Regions from separate parts of the Homo sapiens genome. Here regions 2, 3, 4 and 5 are each linked to region 1. The links come from fine-mapping of genetic effects on gene expression. A gene starts in region 1. Each other region holds a variant in brackets. All regions are shown on one strand. Distances are between the middles of the regions.

Evidence for each region. PIP is the estimated chance that this variant, and not a neighbour inherited with it, causes the effect.
Region 2: its variant is fine-mapped to the expression of CELSR1 in spleen (GTEx, PIP above 0.99).
Region 3: its variant is fine-mapped to the expression of CELSR1 in subcutaneous fat (GTEx, PIP above 0.99).
Region 4: its variant is fine-mapped to the expression of CELSR1 in spleen (GTEx, PIP above 0.99).
Region 5: its variant is fine-mapped to the expression of CELSR1 in whole blood (TOPMed, PIP above 0.99). The same link has a PIP of 0.9 or more in blood mononuclear cells.

The regions. Positions count from the first base shown.
Region 1 is chr22:46,535,881-46,539,904 of GRCh38, forward strand. It overlaps CELSR1 (cadherin EGF LAG seven-pass G-type receptor 1), which reads right to left and starts at 1,740. Exons shown (of 35, transcript NM_001378328.1): 1 at 1-1,740. The coding sequence starts at 1,290.
Region 2 is chr22:46,383,664-46,387,687 of GRCh38, forward strand. CELSR1 (cadherin EGF LAG seven-pass G-type receptor 1) reads right to left here. Exons shown (of 35, transcript NM_001378328.1): 19 at 2,739-2,922; 20 at 880-1,023. Among named protein-coding and RNA genes, the nearest start is that of TRMU, 50 kb to the left of the region's middle. RefSeq lists a silencer at 616-799 and an enhancer at 2,478-3,677. The variant G/A (reference allele first, on the strand shown) is at 2,257.
Region 3 is chr22:46,511,677-46,515,700 of GRCh38, forward strand. All of the region lies in intron 1 of CELSR1 (cadherin EGF LAG seven-pass G-type receptor 1), which reads right to left. Among named protein-coding and RNA genes, the nearest start is that of CELSR1, 24 kb to the right of the region's middle. RefSeq lists enhancers at 1-93, 2,595-3,511. The variant G/C (reference allele first, on the strand shown) is at 2,043.
Region 4 is chr22:46,615,899-46,619,922 of GRCh38, forward strand. It overlaps a transcript of GRAMD4 not described here. Among named protein-coding and RNA genes, the nearest start is that of GRAMD4, 2.5 kb to the right of the region's middle. RefSeq lists an enhancer at 2,520-3,287. The variant C/T (reference allele first, on the strand shown) is at 1,529.
Region 5 is chr22:46,365,140-46,369,163 of GRCh38, forward strand. CELSR1 (cadherin EGF LAG seven-pass G-type receptor 1) reads right to left here. Exons shown (of 35, transcript NM_001378328.1): 28 at 2,590-2,716; 29 at 1,854-1,979; 30 at 1,247-1,341; 31 at 447-550; 32 at 92-241. Among named protein-coding and RNA genes, the nearest start is that of TRMU, 31 kb to the left of the region's middle. RefSeq lists an enhancer at 2,767-2,826. The variant A/G (reference allele first, on the strand shown) is at 2,454.

The sequences.
Region 1 (4,024 bases):
GTTGGCCTCCACCAGGAGCTGGTACTCGGCCGCCTCCTCCCGGTCCAGCACCGCCCGTGTGCTCACCACGCCAGAGCTCTCGTTGAGCTGGAAGACGTCCCACGCGCCCCCCAACACGCGGTAACGCAAGTTGGCGTTGATGGGCGAGTCGCGGTCGCTGGCGCGGATGGTCAGCACCTCGTAGCCCACCTCCAGGTTCTCCCGCACGCGCTCGCGGTACTCCGACTGCTCGAAGACCGGGCTGTGGTCGTTGGTGTCTTTGACCAAGACAGTGATGTAGGTGGTGGCCGAGCGCGGCGGCGTACTGTAGTCCACGGCTTTCACCCTGAGGACGTGCGTCTCCTTGGTCTCGCGGTCCAGTACGCTGTCCGTGCTCACGGCGCCCGTGGCAGAGTCGATTCGGAAGTAGCCCCGGGAGCGCTCGTCGAACAGCCCCTCCATGTAATAGCTCACGCGCTCCTCCTCGCCCTCGATGGTGTAGTGCGCGTGCAGCTGGAGGATGAGGGTGCCCGCCGGTTCGTTCTCAAACAACGCCACCTGGTAGTTGGGCATCGGAAACTTCAGGCTCCCTCTGCCGCTCGTGCCCCGCCGGGCCCGTCGCGCCGGCCCCGCCCGGGCTTCGGGCAAGTTCGGCGGCAGGGGCGGCGATGGGGATGGCGACGCGGAGGGCGTCCCCGCGGTGGCGGCCTCCAGCGCCAGTCCCACCCGGACGGCGCCAGCCGCGCGCCGCAGGGCGCACAGCAGACGCAGGCGGACCGAGCCGCCCGGCGGCAGGCAGATGGGACGGCCGGGACAGCGGGGCCTGGGGCGCGGCGGGCAGCGGCAGGCGGGTAAGGTGGTCGGAGCTGCGAGCGCCGAATGCTGCGCGGCCGCGCAGCCGCCGGGGACGGGGAAGCAGAGCGCCCCGCAGAGCCGGGCACCGGTTCCGCAGAGCCGGGCACGGGCTCCGCAGCCGGGAAGGTGCGTGCGCGCCCGCAGGCGGCGGCTCAGCGCCGTCGGGGCACTGCGGGCCACCAAGCGGACTTGCAGCGGCAGCGGGCGCCCCGCGCCCGAGACGCGCCGACGTCCTGCCAGCCGCCCATCGCGGCCCACGTCCAGCAGCTCCCGCGGCGCCCGGGGCGTGCAAGCGGCGCCCACCGCGTAGGTACAGCCGGGCCGGAGGGCGAAGGCGCGGGTCCCGCCGGGTACGCGCGGCTCCCAGGCGGCCGCTCGCAGCCCCATCGCCGGCAGGGCGGCGGCGGCGGCCAGGAGCAGCAGCACGGGCAGCACGGGCGGCGGCGGCGGCGCCATGGCCCGGAGCCCGAGCCCGAGCCGGGCGCCCGAACACAATCCATGCACCCGGCGCGCCTCCGCATCCACCCGGCGAGGCCGGGGAGCGGCTCCCGGGCGCCCGGCCCTCGGGGCGGTCCGCGTCCCGCCTCCCCGGGGGCCCTGGCGGGGACTGTGGGGACCACGCGCCCGGCCTCCCCCGCAGCTTCCACTTCGAGAGCACTTTGCGAAAGTTTGCGAAGTTGGTTTCAAGATGGCTCCTCCGCGCGTCCCGGGAGGGCGCCGCGCATCAACCTGCGGCGGCGGCGGCGGCTCCAGGCGGCTCCAGGTGGCTCCGGCGCGGGCTCGGCCGGACGGGCGTGGGAAGCGGGGCGGGCCCGGCGCGGGGCGGGGGCTGAGTTCCCGGAGCGGGCTGGGCAGCTCCGCGCCGCGCAGACCCCGGCGGCCGGCTGCTGCCTGGGCGGTGCGCTTGGCCCGCGCCCACTCCGCCCGCGCTCTCCCCGCCCCCGGCCCGGCCCCGCCCCGCCCCCGGCCCAGCGGCGTATTGTTCGGCCCCGGGGGGAGCCGGCTCGGAGGTGCGCGCCGAGAGGATCGCTATGGAGACGCGAGGGCGCGGCCGGGACGGGGACTGGGGCCCTACTCCCCGGAGGCCTCCCCACCCAGCCTCCCGGTGGGGCGGGGCCGAGGCAACAGGGCCGGGAAAGGTGGGGCTGGGGCCCCCGGTGGCCGCTACCCGTGGGGCGGTGGCTCCGCACCTCGGGCTCGGGGCCGCGGCTCAGAGCCTGGCTCCCCACCCCGGCAGAACAGATCCACGGAGACCGCCGCCAGGAGTGCCGCGCGGGTAGGACCCGGGGGCGGAGGACTGGGGCCGAGAGGCCGGGGAGCCCCCCCCCACCCATTAAGGACTGCGGAGGCTGTCGAGGAGGGTTACCCATTTTACAGCAAGACGCACGGAGGCTAAAATGCTTCACCCCGACTAAAACTCCCTGGACTTTGAAGCCCAATAGGCAGCTACCGGATCTGCGTCCCACTTGGTTTAAAGCGCAACTTTTAAATGAAAGAAGAAAACCCCGGTTGACATAAGGGATTTGGAGAGGACGGCGGAGGCGCGCTCATCTCCCGCGTGCGGCCCGACCCGAGCGTTCGCGGACGCATCGCGGAATCCCCGAGCGTCCGGCTCCTCCCGAAGCGGGTTGCGGGGAAGGCGGGGGGCTGCGGGTCCTGGAAGCTGCCTGGGGCAAGCAAGCACCCGCAGGGATTTAGAGCTGTGCCACAGCCCCTGCCCAGCCTCCTACGGAGGACAGCGGGGGGCGGGGGGCAGAGACCTTAGAGCTTTCAGAAAAGTGACACACACCCCCGCCTCCTGCGGGGAACCACGGGGGGCCGGGGGCAGCTTTAGGTTTGCGTGACGGGTACACCTGCCTCCGGATGGGGCACAGGGATAAAGGGGGTGGAGGCTTAGGACTTGGCGACCCCCCGCATGGGCGGGGCTTTGGGACTGTGCCACCAGCGGCTGGGAAGGGCGCGCACTCCCTTGGTGGCGCTCGGGGCGCCGGAGTCCAGTGCAGCCCTTAGGCCTCCCAGTGGTCGGGGACGGTAGGTGGGGGTCGCCTCTTCTCTCCTAGAAGGGCTTCTCCTGGGGCCGGTCGGAGCGGTGGGGGTGGGAGTAATGCGCAGTCACCCCTAGAACGGGTCTTTTTGGCAAGGGAGGGTCGGATCCTGCAGCCAAATCTCTGAGCTGAGCTGAGATGAGTCCAGTCTCAACGAGGACCGTGGGCGGCTGTGGAGAACCGGAAGGGTTTCTCCCCCGGAGCGATGTGTCTGTGTGTGTGTCACACGCATACTCAGCCAACTTCGCTCAAAGCTGCTGAAACAGTGTCTTTGTGCTGAAGCCCAATGTGAGCATTTTCTTCCCAGTAGCAAGGATTTGAACACGTTATATTGATCTAAAAGGTGGAGTTGCTTTGGAACCTTTTAATTCGAGGTTTCCACTGGAGAGTCCTGTTGGGAAATGTGTGTGTGGAGGGAGGGGAGGAAGGAGAAAAGTCCGTCTCCTTAATGTGAGCGGTCCAGGACCTCCCCACCCGCCATATACCCTTCCACTGGGATTTTTCCGGGAAGGATGAAAGGACAGGAGTTCTGGGGCCGGAAGGCAGGGCGGGTCCCTGAGCCCGGAGCCTCCCAGTGGAAGGCTACTGGGCGGACCTGAAGGGGACCCAGGCAGGAGGAAAAACCAGAGAACCCCAGGAGTGCCTGTTTTGCAATAAGGCTTTAAGCAGAGTGGGTTGGGTTTAAATAAACAAAACTCAGCTGCAGCCAGTGGGTTCAGGTGTGGGCCTGCTTTTCTGGAATAAGGCACCTGCAGGCTGCGAGGTAACCACAGGGACTGCCCAACACCTAGGGACAGGGGAGGATGGATGAATCTCACTAACAGGATGTCCAGCAAAGACAAAAGATCATTCCATTCACGCTTAGACCGACAGCAAGCCCGACTCCACCATAACGTTTAGAGGTGTGCACAAATAGGGGAAAGATGAAGAAAAACAAGGAGGTGATTATGGGCACATTCAGGAGGGCTCTGGGGGAGGAGGGGCATCCCCTTCTGGACCTGAGGGTTACCAGAGTGTCGGCTTCATGATCACACTTTGAACTCCAAACACATGATTTGCGTACTTTTCCCTATGCCTGCATCTAGAGTCGGCAGTTTTTGTTTTTTTTTGTTTTGTTTTGTTTTGTTTTGTTTTGTTTTTTTGAG
Region 2 (4,024 bases), 150 kb before region 1:
CTACAGGCATGCGCCACCATGCCCAGGTAATTAAAAAAAACTTCTTTAGTAGAGATGGAGTTTCTCTATGTTGCCCAGGTTGGTTCTGAATTTCTGGGCTCAAGCAATCCTCCCTGTGTCGGCCTCCCAAAGTGTTGGGGTTACAGGCATGAGCCACTGCGCCCAGCTAGAAGCAGCTTTTCACTGCACACCAAAGACAACCAGCTCACATACAAATTTCAGTTCTCTTTTCTTTCTGACATTATCAATTACATGGCTGAGTATCCCTCAGCTGAAATGCTTGGGAACATTTTGGAATTTTTTTTTTTTGAGACGGAGTCTTACCAGGCTGGCATATCTCGGCTCACTACAACCTCTGCCTCGTGGGCTCAAGCAATTCTCATGCCTCAGCCTCCTGAGTAGCTGGGATTACAGGCGCCCGCCACCGCAGCTGGCTATTTTTTGTATTTTTTAGTAGAGACGGGGTTTTACCACGTTGGCCAGGCTGGTCTCGAACTCCTGACCTCAGGTGATCTGCCCGCCTCGGCCTCCCAAAGTGCTGGGATTACAGGCGTGAGCCGCCGCGCCTGGCCTGGATTTTGATTTTTTTATTGTTTCATGCTTACGCTCCAATGAGCATTTCCTTTAAGTGTCAGGTTGGTGCTCAAGAAGGTTCAGGTTCTGGGGCATTTCAGATTTCAGGATTAGGATGTTCAGCCTGTACCTGAGCACTTGAACAAAACAACCTGCTGTCACCAACAGGACCTGGCACCAGAGAGCACTCGGAACACTCTGGCCCAGATCTTCAGTGCGCAGGTCCTGCGATGCCCGCAGCGGGGCCCTCCCCTCCCTGAACGCTGGGGACTCCGAGGGCAGCAGCAGGTTTCTAAGCGGTTTTACCTTTTTCTTCAGGTGGTCTGAAGAAGTCGGCTGGGAAGGAGACGGAGGACTCCAGCTCCCTGGGGAACTCTTCATGGATGGTGTCGAATCGCGGGACCCTGGCTCCCGTAAAGTTGAACTTGTCAAAGATGTCGACAGCAAGAACTGGGGGGACAGTTCCTTTAATCAGACATAACTCCCAGGGCTTTCTTGAACCCCTGCTGTTTTCAAAATGACCACAACTGTCACACTGACGCTGGCTGGCCATATTTATTTATTTATTTTTGAGGTGGAGTCTCGCAGTGTCTCCCAGGCTGGAGTGCAGTAGCGCAATCTCAGCTCACTGCAACCTCCGCCTCCCAGATTCAAGCAATATCTCCTGCCTCAGCCTCCCAAGTAGCTGGGATTACAGGCAGGCACCACCACGCCTGGCTAATTTTTTGTATTTTTGGTAGAGATGGGATTTCATCATGTCGGCCAGGCTGGTCTCAAACTCCTGACCTCAAGTAATTTGCATGCCCCGGCTTTCCAAAGTGCTGGGATTACAGGCATGAGCCACCACGCCCAGCCTATTTACTTATATTTATTTTTGAGACAGGATCTCACTCTATCACCCAGGCTGGAGTGCAGTAGCACAATCTCAGCTCACTGTAGCCTCGTCCTCCTGCGCTCAAGCGATCCTCCCACCTCAGCCTCAAGTAGCTGGGAATACAGGAGCATGCTACCACACCTGGCTAATTTTTATTTTTTATTTTTAATAGAGACAGGGTCTCACTATGGCGCCTGGCTGGTTTCGAACTCCTGGGCTCAAGCAATCTGCCCATCTCAGCCTCCCAGTGCTGGGATTACAGGTGTGAACTACCACGCCCAGCTGACTGACCATCTTTAGAACAGAACTGACTTCCAACTTCCTGCATCCCGCCTGTACTTACACCTGTCTACAGTGAGCCTGGAGTGAGGCGGGGTCCTCGACACCCACCCTTCTAGAGTCTCACACCTGAGGGTTTGGAAGCCCTGCCGGACCCCCAAGATCATGGCCCAACATCTCCCTAGCCCGGGACCTGTCCCCTGGGAGCCACGGGTACGTCATCACAGACTGTCTTCCCAAAGGCTCCATTTACAGATGAGGAAACAGAGGCCTACCTGCCGAATATTTTTTTTTTTTTTTTTTTTTGAGACGGAGTCTGGCTCTCTCGCCCAGGCTGGAGTGCAGTGGCATGATCTCGGCTCACTGCAAGCTCCGCTTCCCGGGTTCACGCCATTCTCCTGCCTCAGCCTCCCGAGTAGCTGGGACTACAAACGCCCACCACCACGACCGGCTACTTTTTTGTATTTTTAGTAGAGACGGGGTTTCACCATGTTAGCCAGGATGGTCTTGATCTCCTGACCCTGTGATCC[G/A]CCCACCTTGGCCTCCCAAATTGCTGGGATTACAGGCGTGAGCCACCGCGCCCGGCTTTTTTTTTTTTGAGATGGAGTCTCGCTCTGTCACCCATGCTGGAGTGCAATGGCGCAATCTCAGCTCACTGCAACCTCTGCCTCCCAGGTTCAAGTGATTCTCCTTCCTCAGCCTCCTGAGTAGCTGGGATTACAGGCATGCACCACCACACCTGGCTACTTTTTGTATTTTTAGTAGAGATGGGGTTTCACCATTTTGCCCAGGCTGGTCTCCAACTCCTGACCTCATGTGGTCTGCCTGTCCCGATCTCCCAAAGTGCTGGGATTACAGGTATGAGCCACTGTGCCCGGCCTCACAATCATTTTTCTAAGAGCATGGCCAAGGGGGGGCCGGGAGCCCACCTGCTTCACCCCATGGGGGCCTAGCTCTGGGGCACACCCCTGATGGTAGCAGGGTTCCACCCCCAACGCAGCCAGCGCCTTACTCATGTTGGCGGTGACGATGACGAAGGGCCGCAGGTACGTCCGCCGCACGTTGCGTGCCACGTTGCTGAAGTAGCCCTCGAGGCGCCGGAGCAGCTGTGCCGTGCCGCCCTCGCTCCGCTGGATCTGCTCCCACGCCGCCCTGGTGGCTGGGGCCAGGAGGGCGCTGCCCGAGTGGATGACGTCCTGGTCAGACAGACAGCACTCAGTACTCAGCCTGCGGAGGCCTGGCTCGTGGGACGGAGGGACACCTGCCCTGAAAGCCTTTGCTTGCCTAGTGGGCTCATTCATTCATTCCAGCCCTACACTTTAGACTGTGCTCTTTAATATTAGTTGTTTTTTGTTTTTTGTTGTTTTTTGTGTTTTTTTTTGAGACACACTTCCGCTCTTGTCGCCCAGGCTGGAATGCAGTGGTGTCATCTCGGCTCACTGCAACCTCCGCCTCCTGGGTTCAAGGAATTCTCTTGCTTCAACCTCCCGAGTAGCTGGGATTACAGGCACACATGTGCCACCACACCCGGCTAATTTTTGTATTTTTAGTAGAGACGGGGCTTCACCATGTTGGCCAGGCTGGTTTTGAACTCCTGACCTCAGGTGATTCACCTGCCTCGGCCTCCCAAAGTGCTGGGATTACAGGCGTGAGCCACCACGCCTGGCCTAGTTCCCAAATATTTTTTCAAAAAGTTTATCTTAAGAGGAATAAAAAAATGTTACTAAGCTCACAAAGTATATTAAAATCTAGAGAATTAAAGATGCTTCATATTCTTAGCTTAATTTACTAGATGTACAAGCACTGCTTAAATGCTTGGAAGGTCTGTTTGCTAGCCGAACAATTGAAATACAAAACAAAAAATCAACTACATGACATATATTAATTCCATTTAAAATACTTAGGGGAATTTCATGGTCTAAGTTTATAAATAGGATCAAACATTAATCAAAGTTGAATTCAAATAGATAAGGAAGTCTTTTTGTTTGTTTGTTTTGTTTTTGTTTTTTGAGACAGAGTTTCACTTTGTTGTCCAGCCTGGAGTGCAGTGGCACAGTCTTGGCTCACTGCAGCCTCTGCCTCCCGGGTTCAAGCAATTCTCGTGCCTCAGCCTCCCACCACCCCGCCCAGCTGATTTTTTTCATATTTTAGAAGAGACAGGGTTTCACCATGTTGCCCAGGCTGGTCTCGAACTCCTGGGCTCAGGCAATCTGCCCATCTCGGCCTCCCAAAGTGCTGGGATTACAGGCGTGAGCGACCGCGCCCGGCCAGAAGTCATTTTTTAATGTGTGATTTTCA
Region 3 (4,024 bases), 24 kb before region 1:
CAGCGGGCATCACGGGACACCCCAGGGGGTGATGTGCTGAAGGCCAACAGTGGGGAAGGCAGGGAGAGTAGGGGGCAGAAGAAGAGTAAGAGGGTGAGATGAGGGAAGGAGGTGTCTCCCTGGTATGGGGCAGCCCCAGGAAAAGCCACTTTTCCCACTGACGGGGGCTACCAGCTCTGTAAACATCCCTCGGTCATTAGACACAATGACCCGCCTCTCTGCTCACTGCTCATCCCAGGCACTAGGTAAGAGCATCCCCTGCCCGGATGACATGACGGTCACCTCCTGCTTTTCTCCTGGTGTCAGCTCTTACAATTCTGCCAGGATGTCCTTCATGCTGCCTCCGAGAAACGCAGCAAGTCATTCAGGTTCTGGGGTCCTGAAGTGCCCCGAGCCCACCCCCAGATCCCAGCCCAGTGGCCCCCACGCTGCCAGGAGCTCTCAGTGTGGCAAACACAGCAGCAGCAAGAGTGACGGCGGCGCTCATAAGCCCTTACTAAGCGTGCTGCCCTCGAGGGCTCACAGCTAGGGGCAGGTGTCCCGGATTTGCAGAGGAGGACCAAGAAGCACTCAGGGACTGAGGTGTCAGCCCCCAAATCAAGGTCCAATACTGGCCAGGTGCGGTGGCACATGCCTGTAATCCCAGCACTTTGGGAGGCCAAGGCAGGCGGATCACATGAGGTCAGGAGATCGAGACCATCCTGGCCAATATGGTGAAACCCCATCTCTACTAAAATACAAAAAAATTAGCCCGGTGTGGTGGTGTACACCTATAATCCCAGCTACGTAGAAGGCTGAGGCACGAGAATTGCTTGAACCCGGGAGGCGGAGGTTTCAGTGAGCCGAGATCACACCACTGCACTCCAGCCTGGGTGAAAGAGTGAGACTCCATCTCAACAACAACAAAAAATCAAGGCCCAATACTATGCATTGCCTTGACATCTGCTGAAGCCAGGAGGCCTCAAATGGCCTCACCACAGGTCCCCCGCCCCACTCTGCTCCTTCGGATAAGATCCCTCCACAGTCAACCCTTCTTGTCACGGGGATCAGGCACAGCTCCTGCTTATAGAGGGTAGCGGGTTTCCGTTCCCTGCCATCCAGAGGAATTATTCAGACAAGCTACCCATGTGCCCCTGCAAGAACCAGGGGCCCCCCACCCTCTTGTTCCTTCCGGGTCCGGGCTTGTCCCCCACAGCACCTGGCTGTCCTCTGCTCCTGAGTGCTGCCCCGGGTGGCCCCGCATGGCAGGCGACGTCCTCCTCCAGGCTGGGCCTCTGTGCTACTCACGCACTGCTGCTGACCTCATCTGTCCAGTGTCAGGTGCTCAGCAATCCCCATCATCCTAGGACGGGAATCCATCCCTCCCCAGTGGAGTGAATAGGAGGCCATTTAACCAGTGAGTGACTTCTGGGGCGAGATTCAAACCCGCGACCACCATCACGGGCGCCTCTCAAAATCACGCGACTGGGGACAATACACCTGGGGACTAGGCCATGTGGGCTCAACGCTGCTGCAGTGAGCCAGAACACATGAAGGAAACACTCAAGGAAAGGCGGTATCCAACTACGGCCTTTATTCCTCTACTATCAGGCAACACAGGGAAGAGTGTTCATGATCACGAGAGGCAACATGGCCTGTAAGTGTGCAAGAGGATTAAAAATACAAGTTCAAAAGCATTCCCCACGTGGGGTCCTGAGTTTTACAGGACACTTAAACCAGCCCACATACCTGACCATACCAAGAAGTCCAATGCAGTCACACAAAAACATGTACACTAAAAGGGAGGCAATCCAACACACTTCAAGTTGCAACTTGAGTATTTCAAGCAATATTCTCAACCATAAAATCTTAGGAGCCAAGATCAATGTGGGGAGGCCTTAGGTTTACCATAATGAGACACTGCCTGTACACTGTTATAATTGGCCCTTATCTCGTGCACCAGGGATAGGAGTCCCAGCCCTGCAGTGTGCACTTCCTACGGGCAGCAACACTTCTGTTTACTCCGTCACTACATCCCCAGAGCCAACACTCACCTGCGCAGA[G/C]AGCCTCCTAATAAATACTGGTTGGAATATGGCCCAGAAGCTCAAAGCCATAGATAAGTTTATTAATACTTTTTGTTGTTGTTGTTGTTTTGAGACGGAGTCTTGCTCTGTCGCCCAGGCTGGAGTGCAGTGGCACAATCTCAGCTCACTGCAGCCTCTGCCTCCCGGGGTTCACGCCATTCTCCTGCCTCAGCCCCCCCCGAGTAGCTGGGACTACAGGTGCACGCATCCACACCCAGCTAATTTTTGTATTCTTAGTAGAGACGGGGTCTCACCTTGTTGGCCAGGATGGTCTCGATCTCCTGACCTCATGATCCACCCGCCTCACCCTCCCAAAGTGCTGGTATTACAGGCACGAGCCACCGCACCCGGCCCTCATTTGTAATTTTTCACAGCTCTTTACTTGTCTTGTCTACACTTTTCTCACATCCCAGCACCCACCTGGGAAAGGTTCCTGGGGTCAGAATCATCTGACCTTGACTGTGGGTCTTTCCCACCCAGGTAGGCTCCAACACCAGGGGAATCCCACCCAGTCCTCGAGATGACAGTGTCAAAAACCCAGTAAGCGAGACTACTCACAATGGAGCCGGCATTTCTGAAGGGTGATTATTTAAGCCACACCTCAACTGCGGGCCTATGTGATGCTGAAGCTCTTCCACCCAGACGTTTCACCAGGCCCCGACGGTCCATCCAGGTGAGGGCTGGAGTCAGGTCCACCTGCACTCTGATCCCCGGGGGCCCAAGGCCACACACCTCTGGCTGCCAGTCAGTCAGAACCAGTCCTGGTGAGGTGGGGAGTGGGGGCATGAAGGATGTGGCCTGAGGACACCCCAACAGCATCTGTGTATCACCGCCAGACCCTTGCTGAAAGTCAGGGATAATGCAATGGCCCCTCTCAGCACCTCCCCAGACCTCCCCAGACTCTGTGGTCCCTCCTCCCAGCATCAAAGAGAAGAGTCACTCCCCGGAGGGAGCCGGGGCTGCAGGGCCGAGGCTCACGGCTGGGCTCTGGAATAAGAGGGGTGTTTCTGAATGAATTGCCCAGCCCTGTCCTGCCTCGCTGAGTCATTCCCAAGTCAGCAAGCACAAGTCACTGCGGGAAAAGCTCTGGAGCTGCCACCCCTTCCCACCCCAGGGATGCCTGTCCGTACCCGCCGTCAATCCAGCCCTCAGGCCTGGGGGATGAGCACCTCAGACGTGCTCTTTGCAGCTGGCATCCGCTCCAAACTCCATGCCTCCCCACAAAAGTGGCTCTGTCCAAACCCCAGCCCTCTTGGGCCCTGGCAACCAGCCTAGTCCTCGCCAGCCCCTTCTAGAAAGCACCCCCAGCACCCCCTCAGCTTCAGCCTGGGCTGAGAAAAGGCTGTCTGGCAGCGTGGACCCCCCTCAGCGTCCCAGCAGAGCCAACCCCCCCCGGGGACACTCATGGGACACAGCATGGGCAGTAGGAGCCATTCCACCCGTGCATCAGCCCTCTGGCCACACTCTGGGACCTCATGGCCCTGCCCACCACTCCCAGCCCACAGCCAGGCAAGTGACCCCCACCTGGGCCCTCCTGGGGAGAGCTGCACAGCTGTCGGCAGCACAGCTGGAACCACAGCCCAGCGGTCTCAGTGCGTATCACAAAGGCTAGCTTGTGAGTGGATGCTCCCAAGTCACATGACCCCCAGGTAGGAAGGTTTGCACATGTTTCATCAGGGTAAAGGGAAAGAGGCTCACCTTAAACACAAACTCTATGAAGGCCTTAGACAGAAAATAGGAAAGCATGACAGTCTGTGTCTCCATGGTGAAGTCAGCTCTGGGAGGGCTGAGCCTGATGCAGAGTGGGTGTGCACAAGCTGCAGGGCACCCCGGGGGCTGGAGGTGGAGGACACAGCCAATAGGACGGGCCTCAGTCACACAGTGCTCAGGGCTGGGGACTCAAAGGCACAGAGGCTGAGGCTTTGTAAGTCCTGCTGGGGGATCAGGGGATGACTAAGTCA
Region 4 (4,024 bases), 80 kb after region 1:
TGCGTGTAGGTTCCCCCGTGTGTAGGTTCCCCTGTGCGTGTGGGTTCCCCCATGTGTAAGTTCCCCCCTGTGTAGGTTCCCCTGTGCTTGTGGGTTCCCCCGTGTGTAGGTTCTGCTGTGCGTGTTGGTTCCCCCATGTGTAGGTTCCCCTGTGCGTGTCGGTTCCCCCGTGTGTAGGTTCCCCCAAGCGTGTAGGTTCCCCCTTGTGTAGGTTCCCCTGTGCGTGCAGGTTCCCCTGTGTGTAGGTTCCCCTGTGTGTGTAGGTTCCCCTGTGTGTACGTTCCCCTGTGTGTACGTTCCCCTGTATGTACGTTCCCCTGTGCGTGTAGGTTCCCCTGTGCGTGTAGGTTCCCCCGTGCGTGTAGGTTCCCCCGTGTGTGCAGGTTCCCCTGTGTGTGTGGCTTCCCCTGTGTGTAGGTTCCCCTGTGTGTGTAGGTTCCCCTGTGTGTACGTTCCCCTGTGTGTACGTTCCCCTGTGTGTAGGTTCCCCTGTGCGTGTAGGTTCCCCTGTGCGTGTAGGTTCCCCCGTGAGTAGGTTCCCCTGTGCGTGTAGGTTCCCCCGTGTGTAGGTTCCCCTGTGCGTGTCGGTTCCCCCGTGTGTAGGTTCCCCCAAGCGTGTAGGTTCCCCCTTGTGTAGGTTCCCCCGTGTGTGCAGGTTCCCCTGTGTGTGCGGCTTCCCCTGTGCGTGCAGGTTCCCCTGTGTGTAGGTTCCCCTGTGTGTGTAGGTTCCCCTGTGTGTACGTTCCCCTGTGTGTACGTTCCCCTGTGTGTAGGTTCCCCTGTGCGTGTAGGTTCCCCTGTGCGTGTAGGTTCCCCCGTGCGTGTAGGTTCCCCCGTGTGTGCAGGTTCCCCTGTGTGTGTGGCTTCCCCTGTGCGTGCAGGTTCCCCTGTGTGTAGGTTCCCCTGTGTGTGTAGGTTCCCCTGTGTGTACGTTCCCCTGTGTGTACGTTCCCCTGTGTGTAGGTTCCCCCGTGTGTAGGTTCCCCTGTGCGTGTAGTTTCCCCCGTGTGTAGGTTCCCCTGTGCGTATAGGTTCCCCTGTGCGTGTAGGTTCCCCCGTGTGTAGGTTCCCCTGTGCGTGTAGGTTCCCCCGTGTGTAGGTTCCCCTGTGCGTGTGGGTTCCCCCGTGTGTAGGTTCCCCTGTGCGTGTGGGTTCCCCCGTGTGTAGGTTCCCCTGTGCGTGTGGGTTCCCCCATGTGTAAGTTCCCCTGTCCGTGTAGGTTCCCCCATGTGTAGGTTCCCCTGTGTGTGTAGGTTCCCCCGTGTGTAGGTTCCCCTGTGCGTGTAGGTTCCTCCGTGTGTAGGTTCCCCTGTGCGTGTGGGTTCCCCCATGTGTAAGTTCCCCAGTGTGTAGGTTCCCCTGTGCTTGTGGGTTCCCCCGTGTGTAGGTTCTGCTGTGCATGTAGGTTCCCCTGTGTGTACGTTCCCCTAAGCATGTAGGTTCCCCCGTGTGTAGGTTCTCCCATGTGTGCGGGTTCCCCTGTGTGTGCAGCTTCCCCTGTGCTTGCAGGTTCCCCTGTGTGTAGGTT[C/T]CCCTGGGTGTAGGTTCCCCCCATACGTGTAGGTTCCCCTGTGTGTAGGTTCCCCTGTGCGTGTAGGTTTCCCCGTGTGTAGGTTCCCTTGTGCGTGTAGGTTCCCTTGTGCGTGTAGGTTCCTCTGTGTTGGGTCCTTAAACATTAACCAGCTCCTTCCTCCCCAGGCCTGGGCAGGATCCCAGCACACAGAGGAAGAAGCGGAGACTCACGTAGGCATCTCCTGGCCCTCCCAGTCTTCCTGACTGTCTCTCCTGGGCCACGCTGGCAAGTGGCCCCAGAGCGGGCCATACACCGTGCTGGCATTAGCACCCCAGGGTGTGCTTAGCCCTGGGCCCGCTCCCTGGCCCCCCTGGGTGGCTTCCCTGTCACAGTGCAGAAGGCTCAGCTCCCCACATGGGGTTCCAGCCTGACCCTCGTATGACTCAAGCCTGAAGATACTTTGCCAAGGGAAGGAATTCAGGTTTCTTCCTGGAGAAACATCCCAGATCACTGAAGGCTTGTAGTTAAAAGTTTTTGTGTATTCAGGGACGCTGTGCTTTGGCAGGGCCCAAGGCAGAGTCCATGGGTGTCCCTAGTCCATGGGTGTCCCTTTCTCTTGAGGCCTCTGGCAGAGGAAAGAAAGCTCAGCTGGTGGCTGCGGGCTCAGGCTGGCGGGGACCCCCCAGCCGTGGCATCTGGGCTGCCTTTGTGTGTCGCTCCCTCACTCTCTGAACAAGTGTTTGTCACTGCCCACCACGTGCCAAGCTCTGCAGAGGGAGACTCGGGTGCCTGCAGCTCGAGTCCACCTGAGCATCACCGGCAGAGCCGAGCCCCTGGAGACTTAGCCAGACACAGCCCCTGCCCCGGGGGAGCACCAGGCGGGTTCTAACCAAGCAGGACTGGAGGCACAAGCGCTAAACAAGGAAGCCATCAGGGCAATCCAAGGACCCCACGTCAAACCAAACAGGATGGTGGAATGACAGCGGGCGGCGCCTAGGGAATGGGGCAAATGAGCGACGTCCCGGAGCCAAACGTGTCGGGCCCTGCAGTGGGGACAGAGGCGGTGGTCGGAGGGTTGCAAAGGGGGTCGGCAGAGCTGCAGCCAAGCCTAGATGAGCCAGAGCTGATGAGGGTGTCGGGGGAGCAGCCGTGTTGACCCGGGTGCGTGGAAGCCCCTGGAGAACTTTGGCAGGGGCGCTGCAGAGGCTGATTTTGCCTTTGAAGGCCTCACCATGCTTGCCATGTGGAGAAGGCTTCGGGAGGCACGCGGCTGCCTGGACCAGGCTGGGGTGGTGGGGAGAGGGGAGGCACGCGGCTGCCTGGACCAGGCTGGGGTCGTGGGGAGAGGTGGACAGATGTGCAGCCCCGTCTGGAGGCGTGCGGCCGGCGTGCGCTGCAGGTTGGCAGTGGAGTGAGGAACGGGGCTATCAAGGGCTCTTGAGGGTTTCACCCAGACAGCTGGTGGACACGGTGCCATCCAGTCAGAGTGCCCCTTGAGACCCGAGTCTGTGCCAGGCGTGGCATAGTTGAGATACTGGTGAGCTGTCCGGCTTGGAGCCTGCAGGGAGGCCAGGTCAGGGGGCAGGGTTGAGAGCAGCCAAACACCCGGATACGGACATCAGCATTTGAGGCCGCCTGACTGTGCCCAGCTGGCAGGACTGAGGCCTGAATCCAGGGAGGGGATGAAACTCCTGGACAAGCCTTGAGTTTGGGGCAGCACACATGTCATCAGTTGTGAGCCGACCTCTTGAGGCTGATGTTGGAACAATAGTGGCCAAGGTCGGGCACGGGCTGGAAGGGCAGGATCTGCAGTCTCAGGACCCCAGAGGGCCCAGGGAGCTGTGTGTGTGCTGGGTCCTTGGGCCTCTTTGCATCAGGAGTTAGGGAGGTGCAAGTATGTGGCTGTAAGCATGGGGACATTGGGGTGGATGTTTTTGTTTTGTTCTTAGAGACAAGGTCTGGCCCTCACCCAGGCTGGAGTGCAGTGGTACGATCGTGGTTCACCGCAGCCTCAAACTCCCAGGTTCCCAGGCGATCCTCCTGCCTCAACCTTCTGAGCAACTGGGACTGTAGGCACGTACCACCACGCTGGCTCATGTTCTTATTTCACTTTCTGTGTCACTGCATTGCCCACCTCAGCCTCTCAAAGTGCTGGGATTACAGGCCTGAGCCCTGGTGCCTGGCTGGCGATGGGGTATTGGTAGAACCAGGCCTTCTTTGCTGGCCGCCCCCGGTCCTCCTGTTCACTCTGCAAAGCCCTGGAGTCTGCCAGCTGCCCCATCCTCACGTCCTCTTCAGCTGCCCAGGTTGGCTGTCCAGCTGCTGGTCTAACCTCCATCCAGGCCTTTCTGACAGTGAGGTTTAGGGGCTACCTTCCCTAGAGGACTGAGACTTGGAGGAGGGCCAGGTGGGGGCTGGGGCCCACTGCAGTGGGGGTGGGGGAGGTGTGTCTGTGTCGCTCAACATCTGCGAGTCCCCCAGGGACATTGCTTAGGAGGGCTGGCGGCTGTGGGA
Region 5 (4,024 bases), 170 kb before region 1:
TCCTGGGAGGAAGGGACCCAGCCATAGCCAAGGCCTGCCCCGAGCCCGCTGTCCACAGCCCAGCCTGGCCCAATGTGCCCCACACACTCACCTTTGGGGGTGCTGTGGACGGCGCCCCTGGCCGGGTCCCATTTTTCCTCAGCTCCCACCCCATCGTCCTCGCTGTCTGACGAGTGTGAGGAGGCGTAAGAGCTGCTCTGCTCATCCAGGGACAGCTCGCTATCTGAGTCGGAATCGTGGCCTGTGGATGCGCGGGGGACAGGGAGGCTCAGGCCCTGGGAGGTGAGGGAGTCCCACCGAGGGCCAAGCAGAGCCACTGGGCCCCTGGCATGCTGACGCTGAGCATGGCGAGGCTGCTAGTGCTTCTTCAGGGGCAGTCTGTCCAGTGACCGAAGGGACGTGGGAAAAACAACCCACGGGGTCCTCCCCCTCCAGGGAAGCCATACCAGGGGGATCCTTGCAGCTCCTGGGCATGAGGGACGCGTCTGGCTCTCCGTGGCTGCCCCTCACCAGCCCAGAGGACACGCCGAGCTTCTGGATCCCTTCATCCCTAGAGAGGCCAGGGAGGGTGGGCTCAGTATCATCCGTCAGGGAACAGGAGGTGCTGGAAAGTTCTCTGGAAGATTCTCTGCCCCTACCCCTTCTGTGTTCCCAACAACAGCACAGACAAAACAGCCTCCCGAGTATGTGGGGGAAAGGTGGTGGGGGGAAAGGTTGGGTGGGGGGAAGGTGGTGGGTGGAAAGGTTGGGTGGGGGAAGGTGGTGGGGGGAAAGGTTGGGTGGGGGAAGGTGGTGGGGGGAAAGGCTGGGTGGGGGAAAGGTGGTGGGGGGAAAGGCTGGGGGGGAAGGTGGTGGGGGGAAAGGTTGGGGGGAAGGTGCTGGGGGAAAGGTTGGGGGGAAAGGTTGTCAGGGGAAAGGTGGAGGGGGAAGGTGGAGGGGGGAAGGCTGCGGGGGGAAGGTGCAGTGCGGGGAAGGTGCGGGGGGGAAGGTTGCACGGGAAAAGGTTGGTTGGGGGAAGTTGGTGGGGGAAAGGTTGTTGGGGGAAGGTGCAGGGGAAGGGAAGGTGCGAGGCGGGGAGGGAAGGTGCGGGGCAGGGAGGGAAGTTGCGGGTGGGAAGAAGGTGCGGGTGGAAAGTTGGGGGTGGAAGGTGATGTTGGTTGAATGGCAGGACACAGGTTGGGGTGGCAGGGGCAAAACCTGAGGGAGTTCGAGAGCCACCTCCCCGAACCCGGAGCTGCGGCCTGACCTGACGATGCTGTCCAGCGAGGCGGTGGACTCGCCCAAGTCTGTGCGCAGCATGTCAGGCCCGTCACCGAAGGTGGTGTTGCAGTTGAGGGAGCGCTGAAGGGAGGGGAGGGGCTGGTCACTGCCAAGTGGTGGCCACCACATGACCACCACGGGGAATGACTCTGTCCCCACGGCAAGCCCCCCACACCCACACCCTGGCTGGGCCCCTGCCTGGCACACAGGAGGAGCTGGCCCCAAGCAGTCAACCCTCACTGCAAACGAGAGCCTCCTGGCAGCTGAGGGAAGCACATCCTGGCCCGCGCTGTGGTCAGGGGCTGCCGCCCTCCCTACGGCCACTGCTTCTGGTCAGGATCCTCGGTGGTCCTGACCCTCTCTTTCTAAGGCCTGGAAGAGCAGGGTTAGGATGCGACCCAGGCCCCATCTGGCCGATTCTGTCACTTTCTGGTTCTGACGCGGCAGCCACACCGTGCACCGCGGGCGGCTCTGCCATCCCCACCGTGAGGGGCATACGGGCCGCAGGACTGGGGCTGAGGCTCGATCACCCTCCCCCGCCCCTCGAGATGCCGCCCAGCCCCCAGTCCCGCGGTGTCCCCGGCGCCTCCTACCGTCAGCAGGGTGGCCCTGGTGGTGGCGGAGTCCTCCAGGTGCAGCTTCCTCCCGCCGAGCACGCCCTTCAGGTGCTTCCGGACCTCCTGGTTGAGCACGCAGTGGAAAAGGAGGACGAAGGGGCCCTGGAGGGAGGAAGGTGGGGTCAGCACCTGCTGCTGCCTCCCTAGGCACCTGCCCTTAGGCGCCCCAGCACAGATGCGCATACAGCCTTGAGTGCACACAACATGTCCGGCCACACGGCCCAGGACACGGCCAGGCCTCCCCTCCTCAGGGACTGCTGCTATCTGGAGGCCAGGTGGGGGAGCTCAGAAACTGAGATGCCTGGGCCAGACCCCCGGTGTGCTGGAGGCAGTGAGGGCCCCGGCTCAGGCCAGTCTTCTGGGCACTCCTTCCACAGTCCTTGGGGCCCCTCTGGGGTCCCCACTGTGTCGTAAGTCCACTTGCTGTGTGGCCCTTGGTATGACTAGAAATGGCCACTTCTGTTCCCTGGAGACACAAGTGGACTTGTGCTGGCCTGGCACTAGGGTCATCGTCCCCAGACACAGTGGGGAGGAGGCACCAGCCCCCGTGCCGGCTGCACAAGGGACTGAGTCCTC[A/G]CAGCCACAGGAGGCCCCCACGCGGGACCCAGGCAGGGCTGGTTTGGGACCGCAGAGGCCTCCACTGCTTCGCATCACAGCGATGGTGTCACGGCGGCCAGGCAGGGGTCCCGCGGGCAACTCGGCCGTCACCTACCTGTAAGCCGCTGAAGATGGCGAAGAGGTAGTGAAAGCTCAGTGCATCGCGGTTCACAGCCAGCAGCCCCAGCAGCCAGGTGGCGCTGATGAGCAGCAGCAGGAGGAATGCGGTCCTCAGCAGGGAGCTGCGGGAGGGCAGGATCAGGCCTGTGCCCATCGCCACCACCTGCTCCCTTCCTCCCTCCCTCTCTGCACGTCCACCTGTCCACCTGCCTGCCCGTCCGCCCATCTATCTGTCCGTCCACCTGTCCACCCAGCCATCATCCACCTTGCTCCCTTCCTCCCCTCGTAGCCAGGTACGGACTCATCCGGGAACCAGACAGAGCTCGTGTTAGTGGGGGTGGTGGTGGAATACATTAGGAAGCAAATGAGAAAACAGGAGCTGTGAGGACTACACCAGGCCAAGGGGCCTGAGCCATGCCCATGGCTGCACTAGCTCCCGTGAGATACCCTGTGGAGAGGCAAGAGGAAGAGCCCAGGACCTGCCCTTGAGCTGTGACCCTGCAATCAGCTTCCTGAGCTCTGCCTCAGTCTCCCCATGTGTACAAGGGGAAGACAAAGGCGCATCCCCTCCCAGGGTTCAGAGGGGATGGAGTGAATCCGGGTGACAGAGCCCGCAAGGTCCACAGGTCGTGGATGGCACTGAAGACGAGGAACTGACAAGGCCCCAGACCCCCCGTGCACCCCCATATCCGGCCTTCCAGGCCACTCACTGCCTCTCCCTCTCTGCCCTACCCCCCTTCAGACTCGGCTCTCTCCTCCCGGGCCGGGAGCCTCACACTCCTCCTGACACCCAGCCCCTGCGCAAGCATTATCCCTTCGCCCATCCCTGGCTCAGTCCCATCTCAGCTACCAGGTCACCAGGGGCTGGCCTTGTTGTCTGACAGATGCCCCCGTCAACCCCTCCTGACCCTGTCGTGGCTCCTGGACGCTGTGCTGAGTCCTCCCGCGGTGCCACCTGCTCCTTTGGGGCCTCGAAGGTCCCCTCTCCTCCCTAGAACACTGGAGGTTCCCTCTGTGCTGGGCCCCTGTTCCACTGCACCCTCTGACAGTGGGGTGGGGGGGTCTCCTCCCCTCCAGTGGCCTCAGCAACACCCTCACCACCCACCAGAAAGTTTCATCTCCCCCACCCCACCCATCTCCACTCTGGGGATTCCAGACAGCCCAATACTTCTGTGCCAGGCGGGAGGGACTGAGGCCCAGGACTGGCTGCCAGCCCCCTCCCTTCAGCTAACCTCCTCCAGCCCCCTCCCCTCAGCTAACCTCCCCCAGCCCCTGCAGGTGCAACGTGGCAAACCTCTCTGGAGCCCTGGGGCTCACCCAGGCTGCCCCCAGCCCTCCTCCATGAGGCCTACACGCTCTCATGGGGCCCCACCCCGCAGAGACTGGACGTCGGGGTCTCAGGGCCCAGCCGACATGGCTGGCCGGTCAGG